Homo sapiens: one gene and its partners. Changing the gene in region 4 together with the main gene of any one other region gives a genetic interaction. Each region holds a gene or a part of one and is shown on either strand. Other genes may lie near its edges. The genes, in order: TERT, PARP2, SEPTIN9 and ATR.

Region 1 (7,991 bases), on a different chromosome or scaffold from region 4:
CAGAAAACGGTGTTAGGAGTGCCAATCTCATGTTATATGACTTTTGCCACCATAAAAAGAAAAAAAGAAAAAAAAGAGCCCCAAGAAGGTCACCCTCCTTGTCTGCATGGCCGGAAGTCTTACATGTCTTGGGAGTTTGTGGGGAGGGGGTGAAATCGGGACTTCTTCTAGCTGCCACGGTAGGGCCTGGGAGCACTGGGAGCCAAAAGGGGGCTGGAGCGGAGGTTCCTCAACATCAAATCCAGAAAAACAGGGTGGGGACACGGCAGGGCCCAGCAGCACCATCCCCTGAACACCCACAAACACTGTCCCTTCCTCAGCAGGTGGAGCCATCTGCTGTCCTCTGCTCCCATGTGGCCCTCTTCATACCTAAAGATGGGACCAGGATCTGTGCTGGAGAACAGTCTTATCTCCCTCCCTCTACCCTGTCCTGGCACAATCAACGAACACTTTTTTTTTTTAAAGACAGAGTTTCACTCTTGTCGCCCAGGCTGGAGTACAATGGCACAATCTCAGCTCACTGCAGCCTCCGCCTCCTGGGTTCAAGTGATTCTCCTGCCTCAGCCTCCCAAGTAGCTGGGATTACAGGCACACACCACCATGCCCAGCTAATTTTTGTATTTTTAGTACAGATAGGGTTTCACCATGTTGGTCAGGCTGGTCTCAAACTCCTGACCTCAGGTGATCCACCTGCCTCAGCTTCCCAAAGTGCTGGGATTACCGGCGTGAGCCACCGCACCTGGCCGTCAACACACAATTAAATCTTAAACACAAACCTGCATATTGGCTGACCACGTGCACCTGCAAAACCCTTACCTCCCACCCCCAGGAAGAGGGGGTTCTCGTCCCCACCTCTCATTCCCACCCTTGAAATTGCGAAGAGGATTATAGGTAACCTGCAGGCACCCTCGCCAGAGCGTCTGTGCTTCCAGACACTTCTCCCCATTGCCGGCAACCCGGCTCCACTGCCGCGCCCAGCCTCCTCTGTTCACTGCTCTGGCCTCGGCGCCTGGAAACCGCGTGTCCATCAAAACGTGAAGGTGAACCTCGTAAGTTTATGCAAACTGGACAGGAGGGAGAGCAGAGGCAGAGATCACCGTGTCCACTCGACGTCCTGAGCGAAAAGCCACGTGTGCCCACGTGACGATGGAGACAGGAGGACCAGGGCTCTGCCTGCCCCCTTTTCTGAGCCCCTACTGCATTCAGCTCTGGGGCCTGGGCCCTCGACGGCCACCACCTCCTCACCTGGGCTCCTGCGCAGCCAAGCGCAGTCCCGCACGCTCATCTTCCACGTCAGCTCCTGCAGCGAGAGCTTGGCATGCTTCCCCAGGGAGATGAACTTCTTGGTGTTCCTGAGGAAGCGGCGTTCGTTGTGCCTGGAGCCCCAGAGGCCTGGGGGCACCAGCCGGCGCAGGCAGGCCCGCACGAAGCCGTACACCTGCCAGGGGCTGCTGTGCTGGCGGAGCAGCTGCACCAGGCGACGGGGGTCTGTGTCCTCCTCCTCGGGGGCCGCCACAGAGCCCTGGGGCTTCTCCCGGGCACAGACACCGGCTGCTGGGGTGACCGCAGCTCGCAGCGGGCAGTGCGTCTTGAGGAGCACCCCGTAGGGGCACTGCGCGTGGTTCCCAAGCAGCTCCAGAAACAGGGGCCGCATTTGCCAGTAGCGCTGGGGCAGGCGGGGCAACCTGCGGGGAGTCCCTGGCATCCAGGGCCTGGAACCCAGAAAGATGGTCTCCACGAGCCTCCGAGCGCCAGTCAGGCTGGGCCTCAGAGAGCTGAGTAGGAAGGAGGGCCGCAGCTGCTCCTTGTCGCCTGAGGAGTAGAGGAAGTGCTTGGTCTCGGCGTACACCGGGGGACAAGGCGTGTCCCAGGGACGTGGTGGCCGCGATGTGGATGGGGGGCCCGCGTGGTGCTGGCGGCCCACGGATGGGTGGGAGTGGCGCGTGCCAGAGAGCGCACCCTCCAAAGAGGTGGCTTCTTCGGCGGGTCTGGCAGGTGACACCACACAGAAACCACGGTCACTCGGTCCACGCGTCCTGCCCGGGTGGGCCCAGGACCCCTGCCCAACGGGCGTCCGCTCCGGCTCAGGGGCAGCGCCACGCCTGGGCCTCTTGGGCAACGGCAGACTTCGGCTGGCACTGCCCCCGCGCCTCCTCGCACCCGGGGCTGGCAGGCCCAGGGGGACCCCGGCCTCCCTGACGCTATGGTTCCAGGCCCGTTCGCATCCCAGACGCCTTCGGGGTCCACTAGCGTGTGGCGGGGGCCGGGCCTGAGTGGCAGCGCCGAGCTGGTACAGCGGCGGCCCGCACACCTGGTAGGCGCAGCTGGGAGCCACCAGCACAAAGAGCGCGCAGCGTGCCAGCAGGTGAACCAGCACGTCGTCGCCCACGCGGCGCAGCAGCAGCCCCCACGCCCCGCTCCCCCGCAGTGCGTCGGTCACCGTGTTGGGCAGGTAGCTGCGCACGCTGGTGGTGAAGGCCTCGGGGGGGCCCCCGCGGGCCCCGTCCAGCAGCGCGAAGCCGAAGGCCAGCACGTTCTTCGCGCCGCGCTCGCACAGCCTCTGCAGCACTCGGGCCACCAGCTCCTTCAGGCAGGACACCTGCGGGGGAAGCGCCCTGAGTCGCCTGCGCTGCTCTCCGCATGTCGCTGGTTCCCCCCGGCCGCCCTCAACCCCAGCCGGACGCCGACCCCGGGGAGGCCCACCTGGCGGAAGGAGGGGGCGGCGGGGGGCGGCCGTGCGTCCCAGGGCACGCACACCAGGCACTGGGCCACCAGCGCGCGGAAAGCCGCCGGGTCCCCGCGCTGCACCAGCCGCCAGCCCTGGGGCCCCAGGCGCCGCACGAACGTGGCCAGCGGCAGCACCTCGCGGTAGTGGCTGCGCAGCAGGGAGCGCACGGCTCGGCAGCGGGGAGCGCGCGGCATCGCGGGGGTGGCCGGGGCCAGGGCTTCCCACGTGCGCAGCAGGACGCAGCGCTGCCTGAAACTCGCGCCGCGAGGAGAGGGCGGGGCCGCGGAAAGGAAGGGGAGGGGCTGGGAGGGCCCGGAGGGGGCTGGGCCGGGGACCCGGGAGGGGTCGGGACGGGGCGGGGTCCGCGCGGAGGAGGCGGAGCTGGAAGGTGAAGGGGCAGGACGGGTGCCCGGGTCCCCAGTCCCTCCGCCACGTGGGAAGCGCGGTCCTGGGCGTCTGTGCCCGCGAATCCACTGGGAGCCCGGCCTGGCCCCGACAGCGCAGCTGCTCCGGGCGGACCCGGGGGTCTGGGCCGCGCTTCCCCGCCCGCGCGCCGCTCGCGCTCCCAGGGTGCAGGGACGCCAGCGAGGGCCCCAGCGGAGAGAGGTCGAATCGGCCTAGGCTGTGGGGTAACCCGAGGGAGGGGCCATGATGTGGAGGCCCTGGGAACAGGTGCGTGCGGCGACCCTTTGGCCGCTGGCCTGATCCGGAGACCCAGGGCTGCCTCCAGGTCCGGACGCGGGGCGTCGGGCTCCGGGCACCACGAATGCCGGACGTGAAGGGGAGGACGGAGGCGCGTAGACGCGGCTGGGGACGAACCCGAGGACGCATTGCTCCCTGGACGGGCACGCGGGACCTCCCGGAGTGCCTCCCTGCAACACTTCCCCGCGACTTGGGCTCCTTGACACAGGCCCGTCATTTCTCTTTGCAGGTTCTCAGGCGGCGAGGGGTCCCCACCATGAGCAAACCACCCCAAATCTGTTAATCACCCACCGGGGCGGTCCCGTCGAGAAAGGGTGGGAAATGGAGCCAGGCGCTCCTGCTGGCCGCGCACCGGGCGCCTCACACCAGCCACAACGGCCTTGACCCTGGGCCCCGGCACTCTGTCTGGCAGATGAGGCCAACATCTGGTCACATCCCGCCCGCACAGGGTGGAGGGCAACCTCGGGGTCCAGGCACCTGGCTCCAAGCCTCGGACTGCAGAGCTAGGAGGCCCGACTTCCAGCCCAGCAGTAGAAGCCACACGGCCACTGGTCCCCTCCAGACCTGGGGCCCCGGCACAACCGCAGGACAGCTGAGGACTTCCCAGGAATCCAGACTCCGGGTTGCTCAAGTTTGGATCTAAGGGGCGAGAAACTTCTGGGTCTCCCGAGGCCTTGCAGGGATGCTGTAGCTGAGGTCGGCAAACACTGAAATGCTAACAAACGCAACCTTAAATGTAACCTTTCCTACTTTCAGAAACTGCCGGAGGAAATTGCTTTATTTATGGAGCTAGCATTTGAACAGGCCTCGCACCCTCCCTGGGCTGTCACGCTCGCTGGAGGTTAGCCTCGTCTTGTAAATACTTAGGATTACAGGTCGCTCTTCTAGAAATCCCCTTAGTGATCCCTAAGCCTTTTTAAAGGGCTGTGTTTGTGAATTGTCTCTGCCACTAGGGCAAAGGGGCGGTTTGGAAAATTTGTTCCAACAAAAGTTAAGTTGTAGCTTACACTGGTTCTCTGCAGAGAAGCCAACATAGAAAACACAATTTTAAAAGAGGGAAGAGAAGAAATGGAAGCAGAAGATTATGCTGGAGTAATTAACACCATGTGCATGGCGAGGAAACGCCTCCCGGCATTCAATGAAGATCGCTGATACCCAGAAGACACCCCAGTATTATGGGTGCAGTTAGTGTGTCTTTGAAAAGCTGATGATGTCTTAGTCATCACAGTGTAAAACATCAAGAGTGTTCTAACAACAATAAAAAAATTCTATCATTGGCTTAAAACACCACAACACTTGAGTGGGGTGAGCTTCCTACCTCAGACCCAGATGTTTCTAAACAGAGTAAATTCTGAGCTGGGCATGGTGGCTCACACCTGTAATCCCAGCACTTTAGGAGGCAGAGGCAGGTGGATCATCTGAGGTCAGAAGTTCGAGACCAGCCTGGCCAACATGGTGAACCCCACCCCCACCCCCGTCTCTACTAAAAATACAAAAAATTAGCTGGGCATGGTGGCGGGTGCCTGTAATCCCAGCCAAATGGGAGGCGGAAGCAGGAGAATCACTTGAACCTGGGAGGCAGAGGCTGCAGTAAGCCAAGATCGCGCCATTGCACTCCCTCCAGCCTGAGCAACAAGAGTGAAACTGCCTCTCAAAACAAAACAAACAAACCAACAAATGAAACAGTGGATTCAGTACCAGCAGTGAAAAATAACAAAGTATCATTCCTTCCTCCACAGGAGTGAGAGGAACTCCTCTGCCCCTGGGGGGGGATAGGGAAGGGGCTCAATCCCAGTAGAGTAGGAGGGATGGACTTTAATTTCTACATGTTTCAGCACACACTGAGACATTGAGATTCAGGACAGTGTCCACACTCGCGCCCTGATTCTACATCAGGTTTCTACTGGCAGATGGCAACCCCACTGGGACCTGAAGCCTGCAGCCTCCCAGCTGCCCCTGCAGTGGGTCCCATGGGATAACAGGTGGTCACAGAAACTGTGAATATGTCAAGAGACGGTGTATCCCCAGTCTACGAAGAATTACAGAAAATATCAAAGGAGGGTAACTCCTGAGTAAAGGGGAAATTGAACTCCATGAACTCCTTACCAGTGGGTGTGACTTGAGCCCAGGGAAGTTTTAAAATGGTTAAATAGGCCAGGTGCAGTGGCTCATGCCTGTAATCCCAGCACTTTGGGAGGCTGAGGTGGGCGGATCACCTGAGGTCAGGATTTTGAGATCAGCCTGACCAACATGGTGAAAGCCCATCTCTACTAAAAATACAAAATTAGCCGGGTGTGGTGGTGCATGCCTGAAATCCCAGCTACTTGGGAGGCTGAGGCACGAGAATTGCTTGAACCCAGGAGACGGAGGTTGCAGTGAGCCAAGATCATGCCGCTGCACTCCAGCCTGGGCAACAAGAGCATAACTCTGTCTCAGAAAGTAAGTAAATAAAATAAAATAGCTAAATAAAATCACTCGTGCCTGCCCTGCCCTTGCCCGGAGGCACTTCAGCCCTGTCCTTGGATGTTTCTGTAAACCTTTGTTTTGAAATAATCCTAGATTCACAGTGCATGGGTTTCCTGTTGCTTCTGCAAATCCCCACACACTTCATGCTAGAAGGGCAGCGCGAGTGCCCTCCTATGGCACGGAGGCCGGAGGTCCACGATGGGCCCTGGTGGGCTAAGGGCCAGCCGTGCCTTCCTGCTGCAGGCTCCGTGGAGGGTCCCTTCCCCGCTTTTTCCAGCTTCTGGAGGCGCTTGCAGGCCTGGGCTCGAGGCCCTCCCTCCCTTTTCAGCCTCAGACTGACTGCCTCCATCGTCCTGAGGCTGCCCCCCTCTGACCCTCCTGCCCGCCTCTTCCCAGAACCCCTGGATTACTTTTCGGGCCTGCAGGTAGTCCCGAAGGATCCCAGACCTCAGGGTCCTCACGGAGATCACACCTGCAAAGGCCCTGGGGCCGGGCGGGTTCTGTCCACAGGTTTGGGGGAATCAGGACGTGGGCATCTCTAGAGCATTATCCTGCCCAGGACACTCGGGCATGGCAAAGATGGCACAGCCTCCGGGTTCCCCCATCCCCACTCCCCTATGGTTAGTCTCCCATAACTGAGCCAATACCATCAGAACCAGGAAACTGGCTTTAGTAAAAGGTGCGTGCAGTAGCCCCCAGCTGCCGCCCCCACCGTCCTTAACCCCCCTAACCACTCCCCTGCCATGGGGTGAAATTCTTTCTTTTTGAGCATGTTGCGTACGTATCCCATGGAGGTGGCAGTTTTGACTCAGCGTAATTCCCTTGAGATGCCTGCAGGCTTTATAAACGGCATGTTCCTCTTCACTGTGAGGAACTGTCCACCGTGCGGATGGACCCGTTTGTTTAACCAGTTTGTTAAAGGACATTTTAGCAGGGATTTCCCTGCTTTGTAGCTATTAAAATAAAACAGCGGGGGTCGGTCGTGGACGGGAGTGTGTACATGATGTGCGTAGTCACGTGAATTCCCAGGGCTGTGGGGCAAATGTCCAGGGGTGCCAATGCTGGGTCTTTTGGGAAGAGGATGCTTAGTGCTTGTGGAAACTGCCACTCTGTGTTCCAGAGGGAGGGGGGCAGAAAAGTGCTGGGCAGAGAAGGGCGGGTCCCTGGCGGGGGCTCCATCCCCAGGCCTGTGCCCGTGGACCTAGGTGAGGACAGGCACTCCTACTTTCACACCCAAATGTTGCATTTCCCAAGAGCGCCCTGGCCCACCACGCCCCCGTCCTATGCCTATAAAAACCCCCAGACCCTAGCGGGCAGAGACACACGCAGCTGGACGTGGAAAGGAGCACAGAAACAGAAGAACACACCGGCAGGCCCCGGCAGATGACAGGAGACGGGGAGCGCCTGGAAATGGAGGTCAGCGTGCAGCCGGACGCCAGGAACCTGCATCGGGGGCCACGAGCCAGGTTCAGGCTCAGAGGAGCCAGTCTGGGAGGCGCAGAATCTCCTCCCTTCAACGCATGTGAGTGTTGGGGAAGGAGACAGACACCCCATGTGAGGAGGAACCGTGCGAGCTACGTCGCTGAGACAAGACACAGTGGGACAGGTGAGACAGTAGCGCTGGAACACGGCCCACCCAGGGTTTAGGAAGCTGCTGGAGAAGCTGAGGCCTGGAGGTGGAGGGTGTGGAGACAGGGCTGGCCTCAGTGTGGCACCCCAGGCTGAGTCTCCAGGGCAGATGGCGCCCTCGGGAAGCAGCAACCAGGCCCTAGAATCTGGGGGAGTGCCTGCCAGGGTCTACTAGTCTAGAGGAACAGACTGTTCAGCCGCTGTTGTCACCCCAGCCTGGTGGCTGAAAGCAGCCTCATCTCTCCTGGACTCTTAATATATCAGGGGTGTGGGCCGTGCTCTGTGGGCCTAGTAAAAGAGTGGTGTTTGTACTGAGTGTTGTCATGGCTTGTCACACCCGAAGAAGTTGCTGGAATCATTCAATCCTTGGGGGTGAAGATGAATAATGATGGAAGGAACGGTCCCCATCAGCAGAGTCGTGTAATTTACATGGCCATTTCCTGCACACCACTTCATTACCCTTGAC
Region 2 (4,798 bases), on a different chromosome or scaffold from region 4:
CACAAAGCCTAACCATATCAGGATCTGACCTGGACTTTAGTACTTCTTAGTTGGAGCAGGTTATGTAAAAACTCATTCCACTTTTTTCCTTTCCTCCTCAAGATGTATTCAGGCTTAGTGACAGTCCTCCAAGGGCTTCCCAAATTTTTGGACATGTGATGAGTCCTAGGATGTTGAGTAGTGGGAGACCTAGGCTGCAGTGGATAAATTTGAAAAAGGCAAGTGAATACATATGCATGGGAAAGAAAAACACGACTTAGCCTTTGTTGCCTCTACCCTTCCTGTGATAATACTCAACAAATTCCAGTTTGCAGAAAAATTGAATTAAACAGGTAAAAGCATTAGCGCCCCCATTAGTGTCCCTCAATGCACAGATGCCACTAAGAACAGGATACTGAATAACCCTCAGAGCAATGAGTAATTTCTGTCCTGGAAATGGAGATCTACTAATGTCAGAAGAAATATGTTCTTGGAGAAATAAAGCCCGAAGAAGCCAGTGGTAGACCTGTACAGTTTTTATTACATAAAATATCACAAAATTCACAAGTACAACACTGCTTATTTTCTTGCTTGAAGATCAGATCTCTGGTTTATTTAATATCAACATTCACCACAGCTGAAGGAAATTAAACTGAACCTTTAAAAGGTACCGCATACGGACCTGGTTGGGGTTATATACAATATATTCATTGTAGTTGAGGGTATAACCATCTGGATTCAGAATTCCTGTGTCACTTGCTGGTCCTAATGGCACTGTACTCCCATTCCTGCCAAATGGAAAAAAAGTGTGTCAACATCAGTCTCTGGTTCAGAAGCTGCAATAGAGAACGTAGTCTTATCTGGCCAAAAGGAGTCTTCTAGTCCTCCTGGTTCTGAGTACTTACAGGGTGACGAAGTGGGCAGAACTGGGAGCCATCTTGCCCAGCCCCTTGGTGCTATGTTTACCTTGAAGCAATCCTTCGGCCTTAGGATTGGCCTCTAGTAGTTCATTACACTGACCTAGAGCTACCTGCAAAGCAAAAAACCTTTGAATTCCCATATCCTACTAAGAATTAGATGGCTCCAAAGCCAAACAGAAAATCCCATCAGTACTTTTTTCCCCTACTCCAGCAGAGGAATCCAATGTACTAGAAATTGTACTTGGTCCTCTCTCAAGCTATCCCAGGTAAACCTCTTGGTTCTGGGGTCAAACTTTTCTCATCGGAAAAAAACTGGAATTAATAAACTAGAGATCACAGACATACTCCTGTCTCACCTCTGATAAGAGCAGCAGTCCTGTATTCTTTAGGCGAGAGGCAAAGCAGTAATTGGCACTCTTGGAAGACATGTCAGCAAAGTAGATTCCTTTCCCAAACTGAAATATATACATGAATACCAAGGTCAGCTTCTAACCCACTGTGTTAGAGAGAAGGTGCATACCACTGACCCTGTTTTTCCATTCCCTTAAACACAATATAGACCCTTCTCCATTTCCCCTCACAATTCTGTTCTAGAGAGGGTAGAAGCCCCTGTGAATTTCCGCCTTCTGAGGGAAAGGTGAGGTATCTTTAGGAATTTAAAGAAAGAGGGACACAGTAAGAGATGACAAGGTTATCAGTGAGCTGGCTTAACTCTTGGGGAGGGGAACCATCTAATCCTAATCTAGGAAAAAAAGCACTGAGAACATTACTGTATCCCTTTCCCCTGTGCTCCTCCCAGAGTTCAATTTCACTCACCATGTAACCTGTGATGGGAGCTTCAGGTGGGGCAATTCGAAGCCCATGGCTCAAGATTCCCACCCAGTTACTCATCCTGGAACCATGCCATAGAAGCATCCTAAGGAAAAGCCAATATTATTGTACTCTGTTGTTCTGCACAGATAGGCCATAAGCATAAAAAAGCCAACACCTTCCTCTGACTCCCTCTTATAAGTTCTACAGCTGTACTTTCGGGCAAGGAGTGTCTTTCCAAACGCAAAGCTAGACTCAGACCTGTTATGAAGGTCCTCTCTGAAGGCTTCTTTCTCACCATCCTTCTCCACTTCAAACAAATCCAGCAAGGTCATGGTATAGTCGCTGTGTGTGGGAGCATGGGTAGATTGTAGGTACTGGGAAATCACCTGTGAAAAATAAGACAAAAAGGCTGATGTAGACTCTACAAGAGACTGAGCTGAACTGAAGAATTTGGGGATTCTGATATAACTTGGCAGACCTTTCTGCTCCCAAACAGTCTTACAAGGCAGCTAGGAAAAGCTTGGCCTTCCCAAATCCCTAGTACATAAAAAGTCTGCCCTAATTGACAATTTGCTCTTGACAAGAAGTAGTTAGAGAACAGTGGGATGGGGGAGGTGGTTAAGGGTGCAAGAATATGAAAATAAATGATCATTTTTCTTACTTTGAACTCATAACTTTCATGGTCAAGGGGGCGCAAGGCACAATGTAGGTTTCTATAGTGTTGGTCCAATGGGTGTTCTGGGCTTTGTAGCTCTGTTTTCACCAGCTTAATAGCAATTTCAATGTCTCCCAAAGCCTGAGAAGATGAGATATAGAATCAATGTGGGAGGACACTGGTATAAGGGATATAATACTTCTCAAATCATACATATCTCACCTCTAGTAATTGTATTTTTTCTGACAGTTCCTTCTGTGTCCGGATTAGTGGAGGAGTACGGAGTCTAAGAACAGAGATATAACCCATAATGAGCTTTCTGACATGTGGCTAAAAGGCGCATGACTAAAAATAGAAAATGACAGATAGGTCCTTTAGAAAACAGGTATGAGAAACAGGTTTTCCATTTGAGAGAGAAAGAGATCTGTAAAGAGATCTTAACTTCCAAATATATAAAATAATATTAAATATATACTCGGTATAAGATGAACTATGTGGATTTTGACTTTTGAGACTAGAGTTAAAATTATTTTTTATAAAATCATTTAAAAATAAGTTATATTGATATCAACAGGGAACAGTTGGATACAGTTCTATCTAGAAGCACAGGTAGACCTGTTGACCACTCAGGGTTATTTCTAGGTCACGGGGCTCTATAAAGCTATAAAAGAAATAGAAATCGGATGTAAACCAGAAAACAGAATCAACAAATGTAAAATGTTATTTTGTCTATCTAATATCACTTGAGTTCACAGAAATGGTGTTTGTGTGGTTTTAGTTACTCAAATAGGAAAAGGGGGTGATATGCCTGAAGGTGTTTTACTTGGGTGGTTGGATAGCTAGACCCATTCTCTCTTGGGTTGGTAACTTCCACTTTGTCAGAGAATATGGCTGTGGTCAAGCCGGGAGATTGCATCCCATATTTGTAAGCTGATTAAATAGGCTACCTATATATCATTTTGTTTCTGTACCTATTCAAGACGATCATTTTCTTAGGAATAAAAGATTTAAAAGATTATAGCTGCTGCTGATGGATACAGGGGATATGTATAGGTAGAAGAACAAAGTGAAGTAACAGCACAGGCCTTACCCAAAGTCATGCGGAATCCTGGTGTAGAATTCATTGCATGCTTCCATGAGAGCTCGTCCATGCTGGCCAGCCCGAATACAATCCTCAATCTTCTTAAGAGACTGGTAACCTGCCTTGATTTGTGCCACTGTCAGCTTCCCTGCAGGCCCACCCAGAGATCAGACTCCAAACTAGGATCCCATCTAGTGAACTGTACTTAACATCCTTCCCTAAAAAAGACTTTCATCTTTCAACTTTTTTTTTTCCTGTTTTTAAGATGGGGTCTCACTCCTGTTGCCCAGGCTGAGTGCCGTGGCACAAACACAGCTAAATGCAGTTCAACCTCCTGGGCTCCGGTGATCCTCCCACTTCAGCTTCGCAAGTAGCTAGATCACAGGCACACACCACCATGCCTGGCTAATTTTTCTATTTTTAGTAGAGATGGGGTCTCACCATGTTGCCCAGGCTGGTTTCAAACTCCTGGGCTCAAGCAATCCACCTGCCTTGGCCTCCCAAAGTGTTGGGATTATAGGCATGACCCATCACACCCAGCCTCAACTTTCAAAATAGTTCCTCTTCCCTCCATACAACCTGTCACCCCAAATCCCATTTTCTTCATTCAGTACTATGAGCAAGCTTTAAATCATAATGATAATAAAGTATCCATTAAAGGAGCTAGGAATTATAAGGAGAGAATGCAGAAGAAAATGTGAAGTCCTACCAAGTGGGGCTTTCTTGGTATTATACTTCATTTCCATCATCATTTCTTCCATGGCCTGAACATTACAGATCAACTTTATTAACTCCTGTACCCGAAGATCTAGCTGTGACTCTGGCTTCAAGGGAGATTTAAGAGATTCCTCTTTCTTTGTTTCCTCTTCATCCTATAGCAAAAAACAAACAAAACACAAGACAATCTAAGAAATCATCTCTAGATTCCTTATAACACCCAATATTATACAATGTAAATGCTTTGTAAAGTTTTTATATTGCACTGTCTAGGGAATAATGAGAAGCAAGGAAAAAAAGGCTGTACAGGTTCAGTACAGAAGCAATTTTTCAAACATTTTTGATTCTCAGTTCATTGAATCCATGGATATAGAGGGTTGACCATCCAAGTTCTGCCTCCCACATTTTACAACTCAGAATAAGTCTAGAAAAAAAAGGCTTTCCTCATGACGTCAGTGTGTAAAGACAGCTATTATGTCTCAGATCTTCCCATCTTAAAAAAGACTAAAACTTCTCCATTTTTTTGGATATGTGACTGTTTCCGGACAGTTTCAGCATCCTGGTATACCTCAGTTTATCTAAATTAAATTTTTTATGGTGGTATATATCCAGAAGTGAAAACAAATTTAAATG
Region 3 (7,317 bases), on a different chromosome or scaffold from region 4:
GGGCTGGCGGCTCTGAGCCCCCAAGTGTAACCACTGGACCACACTGCCTGTAGACTACCACTACCTCCACCCCATTGGAAGGCCGGGTGAGGCAATCGGGAAAGCCTGGAGCAGCAGTGGAGCTGCCAGAGAGAACCTGTCCCCAGTGTCCCCCTGGATCCTGCAGCTGCCCTGTGTGGGCCCTTGCTGCCTTCCGCATTGGAAAAGACCTTCTTACAGATGGGGTCTCATGACGCCACCCAGGCTGGAGTGCCGTGTCTATTTCCAGGCGCTGTCACAGGGCTGCAGCCTTGAACTCCTGGCTTCAAGCGATCCTCCTGTCTCAGCCTCCTGAGTAGCCTCCTGGGCTCAAGCGATCCTCGTGTCTCAGCCTCCTGAGTAGCCTCCTGGGCTCAAGCGATCCTCGTGTCTCAGCCTCCTGAGTAGCTGGGACTTCAAGCGCACCTGGCCAAGTCCCTTTTTATTCTCCACTACTCAAGACTTCTCCTTCCTCAAGGCCCAGCTCAATCTCACCTCCACCTAAAACCTCCGGGGCATTCCTGTAGTATTTGGAGGCTGAACTGCTCAGGAGGGAAGGGTGTTAATGAGCTGGTGTCTCGCCCTCATCCTGACTCCCGGTGAGAATGTAAGTTCTCTGCAGGCAAGGACTATATCTCATTACCATTTCTGTACCCACTCAGACTTGGCCATGTGTGCCCAGCACATAAAGTGTCTTCGATGACTGTCTATAGACCCACGGTACTTGAGATTGCCCCAACACATCCTTCTAAAATCTTTCTCCTTTTCAGAGGCTCACGAATGTTCAAACCAGGTCTACCGGGAACAACATTATGGTCATTCCGTTTATTCTGAAGCCCACATACAGGTCTGGAAGCAATAATCCCGCACAGTCTAGATGAAAAAATAAAGACCTTCCTGTTGTCCTTGGATTGTCAGAGCCTTGGGGGATTTTTAACATCTTTTGCTGCTTTCCTTAATTTCATGGTGTCGATGGCTTGTTGGGGGGTCAGCCTGACTCCTGCGAGTGCCCGTACCCGGAAAAGGGCTGGTGCCAAGACAGCTCCAGGACACTCAGAATGAGGGCAAGAGGCCACCCCCACCATCAGCCCCCTCCAGTCCCACTCCATACAACTGCAACACAGTGACCCAGCACACCTTGGGCCACTGCCAAGCAGGGAGCAAACCAGAAATGGTCTGAGCCCTCCCTTCCCCCATCCTCAGAGGGGCCTGCCCCTTTAGGTAAACACAAGGAGGCACCGAGGCTGCTGTACAAGAGTTGGTTCCTGCTCACTCCACAAACTCTACTTCCACCTACTGCAAAAGGTTCTGTCCTTTTTTTTAAAAAAAAAAAAAAAAAAGAAACCCAGTGAGGGGTGGGGTAGGTGTGTGTGGAGGAGAGGAGAAAAGGACAAGTGATGGTCTCCCCACCTCCCAGTAAGCCGCAGGTGCAGAGACTCCAAGCCTGCCTCAGGGCCCTTCCGGCATCTGTGCAGGAGGGTCTCCGCAGAAAAAACCCAGGACCCACGACCTGGGAGGACCCCGGTCACCCCCACTGTCTGGACCCACCAGTGGGAGGTAAAGTGTAAGAAACCAAGGGCAAAGGGCCCTCCCTGGGCGGGCTAGAGATCCCCTGGAAAGGGCCATGCACCGCGCGATCCCCACAACAATCTCAAGTATTTGGAGCATGTTGGGGAGGAAGCCCCGGTGCCAAAACCAAGCATGTGCCACCTGGAAGCCCGCTCCCGCCCACCAGCACACCAACCCACCCACGCTCCTGACAGAGCTGTGCTCCGGGTGCGTAGAGGGCCATCTTGTTCGCAACAACCGGGTGAAAGTTGAAATTCTAAGCTACTGACCCAGAAGGGTATTTTCGGGGAAGTTCTGAGTAATCCTCTTTGAGACAAGGTACTTTATCACTCATTTTGGTTCCTAAATATGGAAAGCCAGAGGAAACCGACAATGGCCCAAAGGCAGGGGGATGGCCCCGATGACTCCTTCACCTCCAACTAAGGCCCATGATTCTGTTCTCCTATCAATAAAAATTAATTCATGGATCCTTGGCAGGTACCTTTCTATCTGAATGAATTAAAGGAGGGACATTAAACAAACGGTTTCTAGATTTAGAAGAGGAGACGCTATTTATAATTTGAGGACTGAGGAGGACAAAGGATCCTGCCTGCCTGGATCCTTTGGAGAAAACCACAAAGGAAAAAAAAAAGGAAGGAAAAGACAAATAATGAAGATCTGGATTTCTCTTAACCTGCCCTTGTGGCCTCGGTGTGCCCATCTGTGAAATGGAACTTCAGAGTGCCAGAGCGGGAGCCTCTTATGAAATGAAAGCTCCTGAACCGGCTCATGGTGAGGCCCAAGTCAGGCCCCCTTCGCCTACTTAAGGCGGGCCCTGCTAGGGTGGAGTGAGGATGTCAGCCGCGGGCGGCGTCCTGAGCGCAAAACGTGAACCCGAGTCGCCAAGTTTGGGCGCTGCTGGACGGTCCCATCTGGAGGCCGTCCCGTGCCCCACTAAGTAGAGGAGAAACCGAAGAGAATCCGAAGAAAGGATGCTGCGGCCTGGACCACCAGCCCTAGAGGCTGAACCCAAGGACACCCCTCCACCTAGCCCCGACCCCATTCACCCACACAGACGCACAGGGACCCAAAGCACCCGGCCGACCTGGAAAGTCAGCGATTCCTGCGAGGGTGCAAGGGGCGAGGAAGAGGGAGCGTCCCCCAGGGCAGCCCCTCCGACACTCGAGCAAGGGCTGGAGACAGCGCAGGGGACGGTCGGCTCAGGTCGAAAGCGGCCCGACAGCGGCCCTGTCCTGGGAGGAACTCGACCTGCAGTGTGCCCGCCGCGGGGACTCGCTCAGCTCCGGGGGCGCCTCGCCACTCCCGGCCGCAGGCACTCAGGTGAGCAGCGCTGGTCCCGGGACACCGACCCCTCCCCACCCCGGGCGCGAAGCCCACCTGAGTAAGACTTCTTCATGGTGCCTCCGTGGCCGCCGCTCCCAGGAAAGTGTGGCGGCGAGGCAGCGGGGCGCGCGCTCCCAGGGCGCTAATCCTGGGCCGGTAGTAGGAAGGCGGGAAGAGGGGGCGGCCCGCCGTCTGGAGTGCACCGACCGGGCCCCGCCCCGGCCCCGCCCCCGCCCCGCCCCTCCCCGGAGATGCGCATAGAACCCCGGCCCAGCCGGCTGTGGTCCCGCCCCTGACCCGCCCCCTCCCCGCCCCGTGAACGTGCGCGCCGAGCCCCACCCCCGCCCACCCCTGCGCTGCGCTGCACCTGGCGGAGCGGGGCTGGCGGGCGCCGGGCCTGGGAGGGGGCGCCCCCGCGCGGCAGCGCAGACCAGACCAGACCAGGCCAGGCCGGGGGTGGGGGCCGCCTGCGTGGCCCGCCGCGCCCGCAGCTCTGCACCCCCAGCTCCCCGCGCTGGCGCCAATGGCTGGTTCCGGGAGTCGCCGCACTTCCCAGTCCCGAGTCCGGGCGGGGCGGGCCCGGCCAGGTGGAAGCGGGCGGAGGTGCGGGCGCTCCGGGCGGCCCCGCCGGGCGAGGCGGCGGCGCCGGGCACCGCGGCGGCGCCGGGCACAGCCGGGGGTCGGAGCCGGGGTGCCGGCTTAGTGGGCCGGGGTAGGGCGGGACAGGACACCTGTCCTGCTACTTTTCTGGTAATCAAAAGGGCAGAGTGCGTCGATTGAGTTGGAGCCTTAGTTTCCTCACCTGTAAATGGGCGCGTTGGACAGATGATCATTTGTTCTCCCTGCGCTGGGCACCGTGCGCAGCTCGGTGTATCGGTGCAGCGGGGCAGACACAGGGAGCCGCCCTTTACAACTCGGGTAACGCAGGCAGTGGTGAGAGGATGCAAAACTTGCACGGAAGAATTCTCTCTACTTGGATATCCTTAAAGTCTCCACGATAAAGCGGTGTTTCCAACGTACAGAGGAAGAAGTGACTAATTATGACTGGAGGGTGGTGTCAGAGTTTTATTGAGGCGAAATCAAAACAGGGTTTTAAGGAATGAGCAGGAATTAGCCAGGCAGCCAAGGTGATGGAAGGCAGCTGTTCCCGAAAGAGGGAAGGGCGTGGCGGAGCCTGGGAGGCCTGAGGTATCACAGCGAGTGTGGAGAGACAGAGGCAGGGCCGGGCCCTTGCACAGCTGCCAATGGAGGCCGTAGAGGACGAGAGGAAGGCGGGAGGCCAGTTGGGAAGCGCTCGCTAGTTCTGGGTAGGGGCGCAGCATTGCCTTCTCCTGCAGCCCTCCCAAAAATGCACAGGAGGCTGAAAGTGTCACTAACAGCCCCGAAAAATCCTCCTCCTCTTCCCCTCTCCTTTACTCTCCTTGGGGGTCCAAGAAGCATTTTCATTTCCTGCCTGAGTGTGGGAAACTTATATGCATGAGAACGGAGGCCTATGTGGCACCGTGGGTTCGTTCCGGCCCACCTGCTTCCTTTCTTGAGTAATCTGTCCAGCCACAGCCCTGCAGAGGGAGCAGCCCAGCCAGAGGAGTTTCCCCTCACCCCAGGTAGAGCTGATTGGACCGGAGTGGACACTGGACTTCAACTGAGTCCACCCCTTTCCTTATCTGGGGGTTAGAGGCTCAGGAGGCCTCGGGAGGGAAGTGCTGTAAGGGAGGGGAGCAGGGAGTATGGACGAATTGTGAACAGCGTCCTGGATTCTGGGATGTCCACACCCTAACCGCAACCCCCACCCACACGCCCACTCACCGCTTGTACCAGCACCAGCAGATTCCGGCTTAGGCCGTGTCCTGACTTGGCCAGCAAGCACCATGATGACACTGCCCCCAGCCTAGCCATGATGACACTGCCACGAGCCTAATGCCTGGGATTCCCAAAGTCCAGCGGTGTCTCAAGAATCTGGGTTATGGGTGCATTGCTGGCTTTGTCCATTTTACTCAGCACAAGTCAGAGGTGCCCTGGAGCACAGTCACCCTGAGGATGCCAGCCCTGGCTGTTCCCTGGCTTTGGGTAGGTGGGTTCCTCTGCGGATGCTCACGCTTCTGCCTGGGGTCACAATTCACAGGAACCTGGGCACCCAGGACCCAAGGACACCTGCGTGGAGTGATGTTGGACACATCACATGGGTGCCTCCTGTGTGATGGTTCCTGGATATCCGAATTTTCCTTCCGATTCCAAGAAATCAGAAAGAAGGACAAGAGAGAGGGAGGGAAGGCTGGGAATGAGGGTTCTACACATTTTTGAGATGCATGAAGCTTAATCTGTCATGAAATTAGAGTTAAAAAAAAAAAAGAAAAATTAAAGAGATGCACGAAGCTTAATTGTTTAAGCCTCAAATTTTGTTTTTATTTATTTATTTTTATTTTTTATTTTTTGAGAGGGAGTTTTGCCCTCGTCGCCGAGGCTGGAGTGCAATGGTGCGATCTCAGCTCACTGCAACCTCTGCCTCCCAGGTTCAAGTGATTCTCCAGCCTCAGCCTCTTGAGTAGCTGAGATTACAGGTGCCCGCCACACCTGGCTAATTTTTTTTTTTTTGTAATTTTTTTCTTTTTTAGTAGAGACAGGGTTTCACCATGTTGGCCAGGCTGGTCTCAAACTCCTAACCTGAGGTGATCCCCCCGCCTCAGCCTCCCAAAGTGCTGGGATTACAGGTGTGAGCCACCGCACCTGGTTTATTTATTTATTTATGAGACAGAGTCTCCCTCTGTCACCCAGGCTAGAGTGCAGTGGCATGATCTCAGCTCACTACAACGTCCACCTCCCGGATTCAAGCAATTCTCTTGCCTCAGCCTCCCAAGTAGCTGGGATTACAGGCACACGCCACCACAACCGGCTAATTTTTGTATTTTTAGTAGAGACGGGGTTTTGCCATGTTGGCCAGCCTGGTCTCCAACTCCTGACCTCAAGGTGATCCACCTGCCTAGGCCTCCCAAAGTGCTGGGATTACAGGTGTGAGCCACTGCGCCTGGCCTATTTTTTTTTTATTTTTTTAATTTAATTTTTATTTTTTGAGATGGAGTTTTGCTCTTGTCACCCAGGTTGGAGTTTAATGGCATGATCTTGGCTCACTGCAACCTCTGCCTCCCACATTCAAGCGATTCTCCTGCCTCAGCCTCCCAAGTAGCTGGGATTACAGGTGCCTGCTGCCACCAGGCCCGATTAATTTTTGTATTTTTAGTAGAGATGGGGTTTCACCACGTTAGCCAGGCTGGTCTCCAACTCCTGACCTCAAGTGATCTGCCTGCCTTGGCCTCCCAAAGTGCTGGGATTACAGGCATGAGCCACCACACCCGGCCTAAGCATCAAGTTTTAATTGTTTTTCACAGACAACTCTCTAAAACATATGACACAATCCCCTGCCTTGGTGAGAAGAGCATAGCAAACATATGACTCTTTCCCTCCTGGCTCAGGACCGTCACGATGGCACCTTGAACGGTTATCAACGCACACGCCGCCATCTTACTCCTTCGCAAATGTCCCCAGGCTACTGTGCTATCCAATTTTTAAAAATTGTCTTTCAAACACTCTGTTCCTCCTCCTCCTCCTCCTCCTAATTGAGTGCTTATGACCAGTTGTGTAATTTCCCCAATTCTCAGTGCCCACTCCTATGAAAGGGGAGGGCAGTACCCAACCCCCAACTCACACAGCTGGTGTGGTGATTAGAAAGCTAATGGGTCTGACGTGCCTCACTGTGCTCTGGTCACTAAAATATGAAACACATGGCATTGGCTTTAGGCGCAGGCAGTGGGCAGAAGCCTGGAGGAAGTTGGCAAGGGCTTGCAGGAAGGTTAAGAGATGATCCTGGCCCAAAAGTGCATGACCCTGCTACTCGGGAAGTTGAGGCAGGAGGATCACTTGAGCCCAGTAGGTCAAGATCACCCTGGGCAACATAGTGAGATCACATCTTTTTTTTTTTTTTTTTTTTTTTTTTTTGAGACGAAGTCTTGCTCAGTCGCCCAGGCTGGAGTGCAGTGGCGCGATCTCGGCTCACTGCAAGCTCCGCCTCCCGGGTTCACGCCATTCTCCTGCCTCAGCCTCCCGAGTAGCTGGGACTACAGGCGCCCGCCACCACGCCCGGCTCATTTTTTTTTTTTTTTTTTTAGTAGAGACGGGGTTTCACCGTGTTAGCCAGGATGGTCTCGATCACCTGACCTCATGATCCACCCGCCTCGGACTCCCAGAGTGCTGGGATTACAGACGTGAGCCACCATGCCCGACGATCACATCTTTTAAAAAAAAAAAAAAAAAAGAAAAGAAAAAAGAAAGAGGCCGGGTGCAGTGGCTCAGGCCTGTAATCCCAGCACTTTGGGTGGCCAAGGCAGGTGGATCACCTGAGGTCAGGAGTTTAAG
Region 4 (7,028 bases):
GAAGCTAGGAGTTCAAAGACCAGCCTGGGCAACAAAGTGAGATCCCTCTCTACAAAAAATTTAAAAATTAGCTGGGTGTAGTGGCACATACTATGGTTCCAGCTACTCAAGAGGCTGAGGTGGGAGGATCACTTGAGCCTGGGAGATCAAGGATGCAGACTGCAGTGAGCCATGATTGCGCCACTGCACTCTAGCCTGGGTGACAGAGCAAGACCCTGTCTCTTAAAAAAAAAAAAAGAAAGAAGAAAGGCCGGGCATGGTGGCTCATGCCTGTAACCCCAGCACTTTGGGGGGACAGAGTGGGTAGATTACCTGAGGTCAGGAGTTGGAGACTAGCCTGACCAACATGGTGAAACCCTGTCTCTACTAAAAATGCAAAAATTTGCCAGGCCTGGTGGCACACGCCTGTAATCCCAGCTACTCCGGAGGCTGGGGCAGGAGAATCGTCTGAACCCAGGAGGCAGAGGTTGCAGTGAGCCAAGATGGCGCCATTGTACTTCAGCCTGGGCAACAAGAGCAAAACTCCGTCTCGGGGAAAAAAAAAAAAAGAAAAAAAGAAAAGCACATTTCTCAAGGGGATCTTAGCTTTATTGTTAACCTTACATTACAAGATTTAGGGAGTACTTTCTATTGCTTTCAATAGAAAGTTTCTATTGAAACTTCAGAACAAGTTTCAACTTACTACCTAAACAAATGGATCTTCTAAGTATTTGTATAAATCTCATACTTCATAAAAATTTATACTCCATTACCACTGGAAAGTGGCCAAGAAGATACACTCTATAGTCCTCAGTTGGGCAAAGTAATTTAACTATTTGAAGTTCTCAAGGTCCAAGGTTGTAACAGGGGGCACATTAAGACGATCTCTGGTATCACTAAAGAAGATAATCTAATATTGAATCTTACAATATTGAAACAACCATCAGGTATGCCCCATTTAGGCTGTCAAATCACAAGAGTATTCGAAAAATCCCAAAATCACCTCTCCTACCAGTTTTGTGATGCGATCTAATACCAGTTATCCCATTTATAACTAATCAATACTGAGCACTGAATCTATAAAGCATGTAACTTCCTGTAATTTTTCAAGGCTTCAGTCTAATTCTTTTACTGATTTGAAAAGCAGAGCTTAAATAGGTTTTAAAGTATTAAATAAGTCATAATCACTCACCAAGTTTTACTGGACTAGGTATTTTTTTTTTCAGTAGGAAAAGGAATGGCTTGCAGACAGAAGCTTTTAGTTGAGAAGATGAACATTCATGTTGAGAAGTGGCTTTCAAGTTCCTACAGAAGAGGTCCACATGTCCGTGTTCAGAGAAAGGTTCTGTTAAAGAACTTGTCAGATAAAACATGCCGTGAAGAGTACAGACAAGTTGACCAAGTATAGAAGCAAATTCTTTCTTGACAATGTCAGAATCATCTTTGACTTTATCTCTGGGGAAAAAAAAGAAAAAGTACTAAACTTTCTTGCCTAATTTTGTGGTCTAAATAGTCTTGCTTAATTTGGGACAAAAGTACTGGTAAAACAAAGCCTAGAAGGAAAAAATGTTAAATTCTAAAACTAAAAGCAACATTTGCTTTACATATTCAACAATAAACACAACCCTGCATACATAGCCAGACAATTATGATCTTTCCAATAGAGTGATATATTCAAATTAAAATCTTAGTACATACATAAGAATCTTGGGAACTCTGTTACAAGAATTCTGCTGCTGCAATAAGATAAAAAATCCACTAACACAACTAGCCCGGATTACTTCATGGGAGCTCTGCAGGGCCCAGTTGTAAACTGCTGTTCTCCACTCAAGGAATATTCTTCTTGGAAACAGAGTCAGAAGAAACACACATCGTGATTGTGCCTGTGGTGCTGAAAAAATTAAGTCTATTAAACAAGATTTCTACTAATGTTAATTTTATGTATACACATATACATATATATAAGTAAAGTAACATTTGTGTATACATATATATAAATAAAAGTCAAGTAACACTTAAAATACATTTAATACCTAATTTAATTAAAAGCTCCTTTTCAGAAAATAAAGCAAGTGCACTGAAAAAGGTCTATACACAACCTTACTAAATAATCAAGGAAATGCAAATTGAAAATCATACCTACCAGATAGGAAAAAGAAAAAATTTAAGATACTTAACTCCATGACATTTTTTATTTTCTAGATAGCAAAAATTTTAAAGTCAGCTAAGTGTCAGTGAGGATGTGGAACTCATACTCTGCTAACAGGAGTGTAAACTGGTGTATCTTTGGAGAACAATACAGCAGAATAGAGGTGAAGATGTGCAAACTCTATAACCCAACAATACTACTCCTAGGTAGGTAAAAACGTTAAAATAATGCTTCTCAAACTTTAATATGGATATGAATCACCTATCTTGTTAAAATGCAGATTCTGATCAGTAGGTCTGGGTGGAGCATAAGATTCCCCATTTCTTTCTTTCTCTCTCTTTTTTTTTAATGTGCTCTTTCAGCAGAATCAAAGACGCTCCATTTCTAACAAGTCCCTAAATGGTGGCGATGCTACTGGTCTGTGGAGCATACTTTTCAAACAGCAAGGACTTAGAATGACTAAAGAATCATTTATAAAAATATTCATTTAAATGTTGCTTGTAATTGTGAAAAGTTGGAAACAACTTGATTGTCCACCAATAGGAGGTCTGATAGTGTCCATCCAAATTTGGCTACTATTTGGAAGTTTAAATAAAAACTAGAGTTACCCATATCACCATGGATAAGTCTCATAAAGATAGTGTTGATCAACAAAATGTAAGCTGTAAGAAGCAAAACAATTTCTTATATTATTTATAAATAAATACATATATAGTAAAAGTAATAGAACATTCAACAGAACAATCAACACCAAATTCAGAACAGTAGTAATCTCTGGGGAAAAAAATGAGGGGAATGAAATCATAGAGGGACAAAGGCTTCCATCATATCTCTAATAGCCCAGGCTGGAGTGCAGGGGTGCAATCTTGGCTCACTGAAACCTCTGCCTCCTGGGTTCAAGAGATTCTTGTATCTCAGCCTCCCTAGTAGCTGGGACTACAGGCGTGAGCCACCATGCCTGGCTAATTTTTGTATTTTTAGAAGAGATGAGGTTTTGCCATGTTGGCCAGGCTGGTCTCAAGCTCCTGACCTCAAGAGATCCGCATGCCTTGGCCTCCCAAAGTGCTGGGATTACAGGCGTGAGCCACCGTGCCTGGCCTAATGTTTCTATTTCTTAAACTGAGAAGTTGGTATAAGAATTTTTGGTATATTGTTCTTCTTTTTAAAATATTTCTCAAATACTTCCTAATTTTATTAAATGAAGATAATGATATGTAAGGACACATTGCAAATGTTTTACAAAAAGAAAGGAAATGGGATATGTGGGGCAGGCTTTTATGTGTTACTTTTTATGTATCTAACCCCCTTCTGAACTATTAAAAATGTACCTGCTCTTTTAATTATTGAAAAAAATATAAATAAGTCTTAGAAGTCCTATATAGAGATGAGTTAAAACAAACCACACAAGGCCAGGCATGGTGGCTCACGCCTGTAATCCTAGCACTTTAGAAGGCTGGGGCAGGTGGATCACTTGAGGTCAGGAGTTCGAGACCAGCCTGGCTAACATGGTGAAACCCCGCCTCTACTAAAAATATAAGAATTAGCTGGGTATGGTGGTGCGCACCTGTAATCCTAGCTACTCAGGAGGCTGAGGCAGGAAAATTGCTTGAACCTGAAGACGGAGGTTGCAGCAAGCCGAGATTGCGCCACTGCACTCCAGCATGGGCGACAGAGTAAGACTCCGTCTCAAAAATAAATAAATAAATAAATAAATAAATAAATAAATAGATAGATAGATAGATAGATAGATAAATAAAACAAACCACACACACATTCTTGTGAGCACTTACAATAGCTATCTGAAATCCTACAGCTTAATGTTAGAAGATTAGCGGCAAATGTGGTCAACTTTAAACAGCCATCATCAGAATGGGAATAAATCCATGGAAGTGAGAGCATACCACATAAATCTTCCAGGATATGATCTTCAAATGAACTGTTTACTACAGAAGCACAAAATAAGTCATTAATTATAACTTTTCCTTAATCATATCTCTTTTAAATAAAAATAAAGACATTTGAAATACTATCATAATGATCATTGGATAAGCAGAAATTCTTAACACAGAGATCTATAAACGATGGTCTGAGGTCTGTGAACCCAAAGAAATTAAATGTGACTTTATAAAAACATGTTATCTATGCCTGTTTTAAAGAAGAATCACGGCATTCCTCAAACTCCCAAATTAAAAAACTTTGAAGTTATAAATAATTTCTATTGACTAAAGAATCAAAATATTATGCACATAAATTGGCAACTCAGAACTTCTATTATTGACAAATTTAATAGAACTGAAATCAGGAAAAAACTTCTGAGTATTCCAAACACGCACTTAGGCTTCAGGCAAAAAAGAAAGCATATTTCTATACTGATTATCTTTAAAGGTTATTCTGATCTGTTGCTAATTTGTACTCACCTTGCATATAAATCAAAGCATCATAAATTTTCACCACCTTATCAATGGTTGCCTCCAGGTCCAGTTTCTGAACAGATTCTAACAAACTTCTACAGCTCTTAAGCACTTTTGTGTAAAAATCCAATGACATCCAAGTTATCACTACAGAAGGTTTCTTCTTGGATTTATGTTGACAGTCCTTGAAAGTACGGCTGCAGTAAGTACATTTTGTTAAAAACATTGGAATTAAGATGAATTTTGTTATAGTCAAACATAAAATTGTAGTAAAGCCAAAAGAAATTGTGAGTACGAAATTTATCTATAACAATTTAAAGTAAACATGCAAATCAAGTAATATGTTATTACTATTTTAAGTTGAATCTATTTATGTCAGCTTAAATCACCCTTAGGATTTGGGAACCAAATGACTTTGGGAGCCTGAGGTGGGAGGATCACTTGAGCCCAGGAGTTTGAGACCAGCCGGGCCAATATAGGGAAACCCATCTCTACAAAAAAAATTTTTTCTAAATTAGGGTGTGGCGGCACATGCCTATAGTTCCAGCTACATGGGAGGCTCACTTGAGCCCCGGATAGAGATCAAGGCTGTAGTGAGCCATGATCATGCCACTGTGCACCAGCCTGGGAGACAAAGCGAGACCCTGTCTTCAACAGCCAAACACTGGGTTTTGAGTTGTACACAAATGTGTTCTGGTACTTTCTAATCATGTGTCCCCAGGAAAGTCAGTTTTGGCTTCAGACAAAAAAGAGCCTCAGTTTCTCTGAGTGTCAGTTTCTAATTTTTAAAATAGGCATAATAGCCTTTACCTTACAGGACTATTGTAAATATTAACTAAGATATATACAGTGCTTAGCACCGTACCTAGCATTTGACTCAATAGAAAATAAATTTATTAACTACTTCAGTGAAAAGTTTGTGTTCTAAGGTTACATGAGTCAAGTGAATAATGAGTAAACAGTAAATCCAAGTTCATTACAGGAAACCCAACCCCAAGAAACAAGAAGTTTGTTTTACCAGTTCATGTTTTGATGAGAACAATGAACAGTACACAGAGCAGTCAGTTGTAAGACAACAGCAATTCCTTCTAACATCTCAATAACAGGATTCTTTAGGCCACTGTATTCAAGGGAAATCTGAAGGGATTCAGCTTTCTGTTTCAGTGCACTCCATAATATGCTCTTTTGGTTCATGTCCACATGTTTAATTCTATAATTATGAATATAGTAGAGAGATATTCATATGCAATATAAATTTGGTTAAAACATGAAACATATTTAGAATAAAACATACTATGTAATATCAACTATTCAAAAAAATTTTTTTTTTTTGTGAGACAGAGTCTCACTCTGTCTCCCAGGCTGGAGTGCAGTGGCGCCATCTCGGCTCACTGCAAGCTCCGCCTCCCGGGTTCACGCCATTCTCCTGCCTCAGCCTCCCGAGTAGCTGGGACTACAGGCGCCAACCACCACGCTTGGCTAATTTTTTGTATTTTTAGTAGAGACAGGGTTTCACCGTGTTAGCCAGGATGATCTCGATCTTCTGACCTCGTGATCTGCCCGCCTCGGCCTCCCAAAGTGCTGGGATTACAGGCGTGAGCCACCGCGCCCAGCCTGAAATTTATACTAAGATTTAAAACAATTAAAACAATGTTCAGAAGTAACTGAAATATGGCAACTTAGCCACTTTATAAAAAATAGTTGGTTAATGTTTTAAAAATTGCTAATAGATGCACAGTCTCAAAGATTTTTCACATATTAAAAAGTTAAATTAGATAAGCATATAAAAACATGCAAAGTAACTATATTTAACCATGAAATGTTTTATACTACTAACCGTCTACAATAATTATAAAAATATTTTAAGCACTCCCTTGGCTACATTTAGAAAGATGTTCTTTGTGTATTTAAATCAAAGCACTTAACTAAAGCTGATTTTTAAAAGTGAACAAAGTTTTATTTAATGGCTAAATACAAACTGAATGAAGGTCATCATACTCCTCAGTCTGTTTTGGTGCTCTTTTAGAAGGGTTTAGAGACGAGCTGAGACGACGCCTTTTGGGTGATATTCCATCACTATTACTGCTGAGGTTTTCCTGTTGAGTTTGGCATTGAATCTCCTCAATGATTTCCATACTTTCCATTTTCAAAGCTGCATAAAGTGGGCCCAACAAGTACTGAGAAAATAAAAAATAATTTCCAGAAATATTCCTTAGAAAATATATTTATATTATTCATAGGCAGCAAGAATGTATTAGATGTTAGGTGTTTTCTAGTGAAACTACTTTTAGAGTCTCATAAAGCAAAATAAACATCTAAATTGATCTATATTATTTAAGTCTATATATAGACTATGGTTCTATAGTCTTAGAAGGTTTAAACAAATCCTTCTCTCTACATCCTGTTTTTCCTCTTACCAAAATGCTATAAATTTTAATTCCCTTATAAAAAATTCTGTAAGGGAATTACCAACTTTCTTCATGTAACTT

Evidence for each region.
Region 1: of ATR (region 4) and TERT, extra expression of one rescues a mutant of the other (dosage rescue), as found in Homo sapiens cells (one study listed by BioGRID).
Region 2: changes in ATR (region 4) and PARP2 are lethal when combined (synthetic lethality), as found in Homo sapiens cells (one study listed by BioGRID).
Region 3: changes in ATR (region 4) and SEPTIN9 are lethal when combined (synthetic lethality), as found in Homo sapiens cells (one study listed by BioGRID).

What each region holds. Positions count from the first base shown.
Region 1 is NC_000005.10:1,292,068-1,300,058, forward strand, and holds the start of TERT (telomerase reverse transcriptase), read right to left. Parts: upstream 3,002-7,991; 5' UTR 2,923-3,001; coding exon 2,704-2,922; intron 2,600-2,703; coding exon 1,246-2,599; intron 1-1,245. UniProt on the Homo sapiens protein: Telomerase is a ribonucleoprotein enzyme essential for the replication of chromosome termini in most eukaryotes. Active in progenitor and cancer cells. Inactive, or very low activity, in normal somatic cells.
Region 2 is NC_000014.9:20,353,607-20,358,404, reverse strand, and holds the end of PARP2 (poly [ADP-ribose] polymerase 2), read right to left. Parts: intron 4,321-4,798; coding exon 4,158-4,320; intron 3,597-4,157; coding exon 3,458-3,596; intron 2,654-3,457; coding exon 2,590-2,653; intron 2,509-2,589; coding exon 2,374-2,508; intron 2,099-2,373; coding exon 1,971-2,098; intron 1,816-1,970; coding exon 1,716-1,815; intron 1,355-1,715; coding exon 1,256-1,354; intron 1,010-1,255; coding exon 885-1,009; intron 768-884; coding exon 608-767; 3' UTR 501-607; downstream 1-500. UniProt on the Homo sapiens protein: Poly-ADP-ribosyltransferase that mediates poly-ADP-ribosylation of proteins and plays a key role in DNA repair.
Region 3 is NC_000017.11:77,277,202-77,284,518, reverse strand, and holds the start of SEPTIN9 (septin-9), read right to left. Parts: upstream 3,021-7,317; 5' UTR 2,984-3,020; coding exon 2,965-2,983; intron 2,908-2,964; exon of another isoform or gene 2,622-2,907; intron 1-2,621.
Region 4 is NC_000003.12:142,554,706-142,561,733, forward strand, and holds part of ATR (serine/threonine-protein kinase ATR), read right to left. Parts: intron 6,717-7,028; coding exon 6,538-6,716; intron 5,750-6,537; coding exon 5,558-5,749; intron 4,737-5,557; coding exon 4,546-4,736; intron 4,072-4,545; coding exon 3,919-4,071; intron 1,871-3,918; coding exon 1,678-1,870; intron 1,435-1,677; coding exon 1,172-1,434; intron 1-1,171. UniProt on the Homo sapiens protein: Serine/threonine protein kinase which activates checkpoint signaling upon genotoxic stresses such as ionizing radiation (IR), ultraviolet light (UV), or DNA replication stalling, thereby acting as a DNA damage sensor.